2 linked regions of the Homo sapiens genome follow. The protein of the gene in region 1 purifies or fractionates together with the protein of each later gene. This does not show direct contact. Each region holds a gene or a part of one and is shown on either strand. Other genes may lie near its edges.

Evidence for each region. The genes of interacting proteins can lie anywhere in the genome.
Region 2: the proteins of CDH8 (region 1) and TMTC4 purify together in Homo sapiens (co-immunoprecipitation; 3 studies listed by BioGRID and IntAct, with this or other methods). This does not show direct contact.

What each region holds. Positions count from the first base shown.
Region 1 is NC_000016.10:62,026,439-62,029,938, forward strand, and holds part of CDH8 (cadherin-8 isoform 1 preproprotein), read right to left. Parts: intron 1-3,500. UniProt on the Homo sapiens protein: Cadherins are calcium-dependent cell adhesion proteins. They preferentially interact with themselves in a homophilic manner in connecting cells; cadherins may thus contribute to the sorting of heterogeneous cell types.
Region 2 is NC_000013.11:100,636,796-100,640,295, forward strand, and holds part of TMTC4 (protein O-mannosyl-transferase TMTC4), read right to left. Parts: intron 2,060-3,500; coding exon of another isoform or gene 1,886-2,059; intron 1,228-1,885; coding exon 1,135-1,227; intron 908-1,134; coding exon 743-907; intron 1-742. UniProt on the Homo sapiens protein: Transfers mannosyl residues to the hydroxyl group of serine or threonine residues.

The DNA.
Region 1 (3,500 bases):
CAGCTCGCAGCTCAGACCTCCTAGAGATAACCTAAAGGACTCAGTGGTGTGGTGGAAGAGTCACTTCCTCATGTCATTGAATGTCATGCCATGAACTACTTAACCACCGCTGTGAATAAAGGACTGAACACATGGATTTGGGGAAACCTTGAACTAGGGTATATGAATATATGCAATTTTATATGATGTGACAATACTTTCCTCTCCTCACAGATCTATTTTATGTGAGGCACTGGGAAAATTGCTGAGCTAACTGGTGTGTTCACAGGCACATGCATGCTATCAGGGAGAGTTGAGACTTGGTCTTCAAGGCAATCCTGCTAATTCGAGAGGGATGGGACTCTGCTGTGACACTTGGAACCACACTATTTGTATGCTTGTACCTCTGCCATGGGCAGACTAACACTGTCCTCTTAGAACATCAGAGAATGGCTTTGTAGAAACTTGTGAGATGCAACTGAGTCTTATGTCAGTGTTATCAGTATTAATTAATAACTGCGAATAGTAGCTGCATACACAAACTGCTTAACTTGATGCAAGGAAGAAGAAATTGAGCAAGGTTGTAAAGCTGGGGTAAAAGAAATCAATTTATTTTTACATTTTCCAACCACAGTATGTGTGTCTGACAAAGCAATCTACTTTATTATAATGCTGCTGCATTGATTTACACTCAGATAGTGAGATGAAGAGATTTTACAGTTTCTCTGGAATTCTTACATATACGAAAGTCTTTAGAATTCCCCCATATGATGATATATTTTCCTGGGTAAAATACTTAAAATCTGACTTTTCATTCATACTTACATTTCAGAGATAGTTCTAATTACAGCCTGAATTTCACTCTGCTGATTCCAACATTATTTTAAGATGAACTCAGTCAAGTCACGGATATATAAGTCATTATGCAAAAACATATTACACCATCCGTTTTGTAAATAATGTGGATTAAAGTTCAAAATGATGAACAACACACTGATAGGTGACGTCTAAAACAAAAACAGGCTTTTACAGACACTTCAGGATTCAATCCAGCAGATTATTGTGGTTGACAGGAAACTATGCTTTTATTATCCACTAGGCTTAGCAGCCACAATATTTCATGAAAGCAAAAATGACACAGAGGACCAGTGAGTTTCTATTAAAAATGTTTCTGACCTTGAATTTAGAGCCATTAGCAGCCTGTTTCAAAACAGGTAAATGCACATTGAATTCAAAGTGGTATTTCACGAAAGCAGGGGGTGGCGATTCAGTGTGTGACCCAGAGCAATTCACCCAAGCCCTGGCTGAATGGGGCTGAGCAGGTAGAAAAAGCCTTTGGATTTTAGAGAGGAAATACACTTGCATTTATTCAAATATAAATAATACAGGAAGATCACCTTTCCTAAAGCCTTCAGAATTCTCTAACCAGATTCCCTTGGCAGAAACATATTCTGAAATTGTTTATGTAAACACACACACCCACACACATACACGTGCACATATTATTTTGTGTATCCTTCACTCAGCCACAACCCTTCCGGTCATCCTTTCTGGCATCAGACCACATATTTATCCAGATGTCAATCTGTCCAAAAGCATATTGTTTGCTTGTTTTGACATCCAGAATAATATCTGTCAAATCCATTTTTTTTTTTTTTTTTTTTGAGTTGGAGTTTCACTCTTGTTGCCCAGGCTGGAGGGCAATGGCACGATCTCGGCTCACTGCAACCTCTGCCTCCTGGGTTCAAGCAATTCTCCTGCCTCAGCCTCCTGAGTAGCTGGGATTAGAGGCACCCGCCACAATGCCCGGCTAATTTTTTTTGTATTTTTAGTAAAGATGGGGTTTCACCATGCTGGCCAGGCTGGTCTCAAACCCCTGAACTCAAGTGACCCACCTGCCTCAGCCTCTCAAAGTGCTGGGATTACAGACGTGAGCCACCGCGACCGGCCTCAAATCCACTTTTTGCTCTGTTACTGCCATGTTACTCCTCTCTACCTGAAGTTTTTGTTTTCTTTAAGTTCTATAATTGCTGGTTTCCTTTGCAAAAATCAATAAATAAATGCCTCTCCTCCTCCTTCTTTCCCAAGGTAGAGTCACAAGTTTATTCTTCACGTAGAAATTTTTCTGTTACAGAAATTTCAGAATGGGGTGACTAAGCCAGTGACAAAGACAATAAAGTCAAAATAAGATCTCTTCTCTAGTGTTCTAGAACCAGACCTTTACTTAGAAAACTTTCTTGGAATCATCAGTTTAGTTAAGATATTGAGAGTAATTTTCTTCTGTTGGGCTTTTTAAAGGCAAACCAGTATCAAGATCATCCTAAAAAAAAAAAAACGAGTATCAGTCCCACAACTCCCTTGCCAGTTACAGACACAGTGGTGGCCAGAAAGTCATTTCTCGAGTCTAATCTAAATCCCTCCTTCTTTGAAGTCACGCCCTTTGCAGTCTTTAGATCACATGTTCAGAATTTAACAGCCAGAGACCTACTGAGTGACAACATTTCGTGCAGGTCCTTTAAATCATAGCAATCAATCAGAATCAACCTTCTTCTTATCAACCTTGTAATTCAGCCGAACTGTGGAAAGCCCCATGAGATAGCTGTTTAGAGCATTGACTCTAGAGTCAGATAGAAGTAGTCTGAATCACAGCTCTATCGTTCATGAAATAAGTCACCTGGGCACGTTTATCTTATTTGTGGCAGGTGAAGAAACTGATGCTCTGTGTTTAATACTACCTACTTTGAAAGATTAAGGAAGAAATAAATAAGGTAATTTAAAGTCTTTGTCAATGTAGCTATTGTAGTAACTATTTATTGGATGTTTCGAGTGCTTAACCGAAAATATTTACTGATTTTTAAAAATTATTTTATTGCAATCTCTTGCTGTGTATGTACTTCAGTGGGGAAAATTCCAATGTTCTGTGTAGACAGGTAATAAGTAAAGTAACTTTTTTAAACTCTTGATTTGTAAAACAAAAATGGCATGAACCAGGGTGGGTATAAATAAAATAGCATTTTAGAAATAGCTTTCCCTCTCCACAACTAACATACAATTAAAGCAATGACTTCGAGTAGTTTTATTAAGCCTCAGAAGGGCTGCATTTTTACTGTCCAGAACGAACCACATCTTTCCTTCCCATAGAAGACATGACATTGTCCATGACTATTTTCTGCCGAGAGGACAGAGTACAAGCACTACCTGTTCATGAGTGAGCTATTCTCTTTCAATCAAACTGTAGCCGCTCATTAAAAAACATTGCCTGGTACATATCTTTTACAAGATAAATTCCATTGCACTTCATAATCATCTACATTCCTGTGAGGACAGCACAAGTGGAAAGTCTCTACTAATTCCAAGATGAATCCAAGGTGATAGCTATATACTACTTAGAAGGGAGCTCAGAGAAGATAATGCTCGTCAGAGATTGCAACTAACTTTTTCTATTTATTTCAAGAAACTTTAGCATTGATGACAGAAATTAGATTTCTCTTCTCACTTAAGAAATGTGGAAATGGTTAAAA
Region 2 (3,500 bases), on another chromosome or scaffold:
GCACTAACTTCACTTTGGAGGCACTCATATGCTTCTGCTCAATGAAAGCAGTTGTATCAAATAAAATGTTGCCAACGTGTATTGGGTATGTGACTATAGTCTGTAAAAATGTATTAAATGTATTCAGATTTTGGTATATAAAAATATGGCAAAGCCATCAGACTATGCAATACATTCGTTATATTTCTGGCAAAGCTATGATCTATTTGCTGCCTGAAGCCTGTGACCTCTAAATCTGAGGACCCAGGGTCACCTATACACCCAATAACATAACAGGCTTCGATGGCTGTTCTCTTGATTTTGGTCTCTATGAAATGCACAGCTAAGAATCTGTGGCTTGATACCCTTGCCTTTAGAAAAAAGGCAAATCTAAAAGAATAGTCTTGACACCACTAGTCTTCTAAAGATACCACCAAGAAGGTTATATTTAGCCTTAACCCAGCCACAGGGTTAGGGAGCCCTTTCACGGGACTGGCAAGGACCCTGATGTGAGAAGGAACCACCCTCTTTACTCCTTGTTAGAACGGAAATGCAAGGAGCTTCTGCATGCCCTTTCAACCCCCTCAGGAAGACCTGCTTTCATCCCAGAACATCTTTAGTGATCGCAAGCAAACATGGAGGTGGCGCGTGTATTGGGGATTTTGTTGGCGTGCAGAGGAGTGAGACGAGGAGGAGGGGTGAGGGATCTGGGAATCTGGTGGGGGAAGAAAAGAGTCCAGGGGGCGGCAGGCTCAGAACTCACCCTCACCAGCATGCTGTCAGCAAAGGAGGCCGGGTTGTCCACCTCGGTGAAGGCCGGCGGGCCCGTGCCCATGATCCTCCAGCGCACGTAGAGCATCCCAGCCCCTCCAGAGGTGAGCAGGGTCATTCTGAAGAGGAGGCCCCCGTTCCTGAGCATGCCGAGATTCTGCAAGGACATCGCAAAGCCCCAGAGGTGGCTGATTTTCACATAAAAGTGTGGCTGAGCCAGGTACAGATGTGCAGCAATTCTGCCTGAACTGCTTCAACACTGTGCTTTAAAAGGCTGGTTATTGTAGAATTCAAAATCACAAGGAATATTTGAGAATGGCATTTTAAATCAGCTGGTACTTGACATTTTCCATGTCTGGGCTGGAGATAAAAGTACAGACTCACCTCTAATGACTTGTCCTTATGTAGTACCTTCTGGACAATTTCCAGAACATTGAATTTGCCTATCACCAAGATGTCAAATACCGCATTTAAACCCTAAGAAAGCAAAGCAAGACAATCAGCCACGGGAGAGCTTGGCTGTGTTAGGCAGCAATTACACTTCACAATTTCATTACTCAATCTAGACAAGGAACACATAGACTAGAGAATCACGGAAGACCTCTGCAGCTCTTTAAAAAAACACATAACAGCCGTACGTTTCTATGAAATTAGCTCAAGGTAATAGATCATATTTATTATTTAGTAAGCCCCTGATAGTAATGATTTCACAGTCTGCGTGTAGGAGTTCTACAAGATTCAGGATAGCTAGAAATTTGGGATTCCTAGGAAAAGCCCTCGAGAGATACCCCCTCCCCACTTTTTTTGGTCACTATAAAACAGTCCTTTAGTTCATGCAACAGAGTGTTTTCCTGGGCAGTAATCATACTGGAAGATAAAGGCAGCCATCAACCTCAAAAACCCAGCCATGTAAGTGAACCTTAAGTGCCAGTGCACTTTGGCATCTTTAGAAATGGGATGAACACACATGATAATCTCTAATGGAGCTCTGGAGATCTCTTGTGCAGAAATCTAGTTGTCCAGTAGTTTTCTCGCTGGGTTACAACTAGATGACATCTCCCAGCCTCCCCTGCAGTTAAACTAGGTTGCGGGGCTGAGTTCTAGCCTTATGGAATGTGGGAGAAGCGACACGTACCATTTTGGATGTTTGGTTGTAAAACTTGGGCACACATTCCCACTTGGTTTCCCCTTCCAGCTGGCTGGAATGGAGATGGACAGGGTGACTTTGGAAACCACACATTGATGAGAGCAGGCCTTTGCCAGGCAGGGCCGTGGTGTGGAGGACGGCCACCTCTATCAATTTACAGCTCTGTCCATGACCCATGAGGGGAACAACAAATAACTTCAATTAGCAGTCCACCTATGTTAACAGTTTCCAATAGCACCACGATAGTTACTTTCTAGCCGGTAAAATTAAACCTGTAGTTACAGGCGAAAGGAGAGATGGGCCCTGGATTCTATTCTCTCTCCTGCCATGGACTTTCTATAAATGTCACTGCTGCAGGCAGTGTCATCGACAGAACTCCCTGCCCAATCTGGATAAAGCAGTCTGCACATACTCAGTGGATATTGTTAAAGCTGCCCCTAAATGACTTGGGTCTCTTTAATATGATCTTCTTTGCGGCAAAGGAGATCACACATCATCAGAAGTCAGTGGTAATTTGTGGTTTTCAGAGCAAGGATGACATCCCTACTTAACCCTCTCCCAGAAATGCTGGGAGCCACTAATTATCTAATACATGGGCCAGTGCTGGGTTAATCAGTTCAAAGAATTCTGATTTTATTCACCCATGTGAGACATGATCTTAGTGGGTCACAGAAGACCGTTTCTGCCTGGTTGAAAACCACTTTCTAGAAGGCAGATGCTCCCTGCGTAGCAGCCATTGTCTTCTCACAGTTTTCCTGTGAGCTGCAGGACAGTTACCAAGGGGTGGCAGGTTCATGTGGTGAAGAGGCCTGAGCCAAACACAAGACTGCCCCCTTCCTTCTTAAATGCATCATCAAAATGGCCCCATTTTAATCCAATTTTTGAGAATAGCTACCTTTCACTGTATCTTTATTCATGTAAATTCAACCGAACTCTCTCCTGCTCCTGAAAAACGGCACAGAGGAGGCCTGGCGTGGTGGCTCACGCCTGTAATCCCAGCACTTTGGGAGGCTGAGGTGGGTGGATCACCTGAGGTCAGGAGTTCGAGACCAGCCTGGCCAACATGGTAAAACCCTGTCTCTACTAAAAATACAAAAATTAGCTGGACGTGGTGGCATGTGCCTGTAATCCCAGCTACTCGGGAGGCTGAGGCAGGAGAATTGCTTGAACCTGGGAGGTGGAGGTCGTAGTAAGCTGAGATTGCACCACTGCACTCCAGCCAGAGCGACAAGAGAGAAACCGTCTCGAATAAAAATAAAAATAAAATAAAATAAAATAAAATAAAAAATAAAGTACTGCACAGAGGAGCCTCCCGAGGACCTTGTAGATGGAAATTCCGACTCAGCAGGCCTGGGGAGGGGGTGGGGCCTGGGATCCTGAATTCCTAACCCTCTCCCAGATATTGCTGATGCTCCTGGTCCTCAAACCACACTTCGTATTAGGGAAAGGTTCTAAAACCAGCAGTTCTCAGGGACGATTTTGCCCTCCAGGGGGGTGTTTGGCACTGTCTGGAGACATTTTAGGTTGTCACAATTGAGAGGTCCCACTGGCATCTAGTAGGTGGAGACCAGGGACGCCACTAAACATCCCACAAACCCAGAAC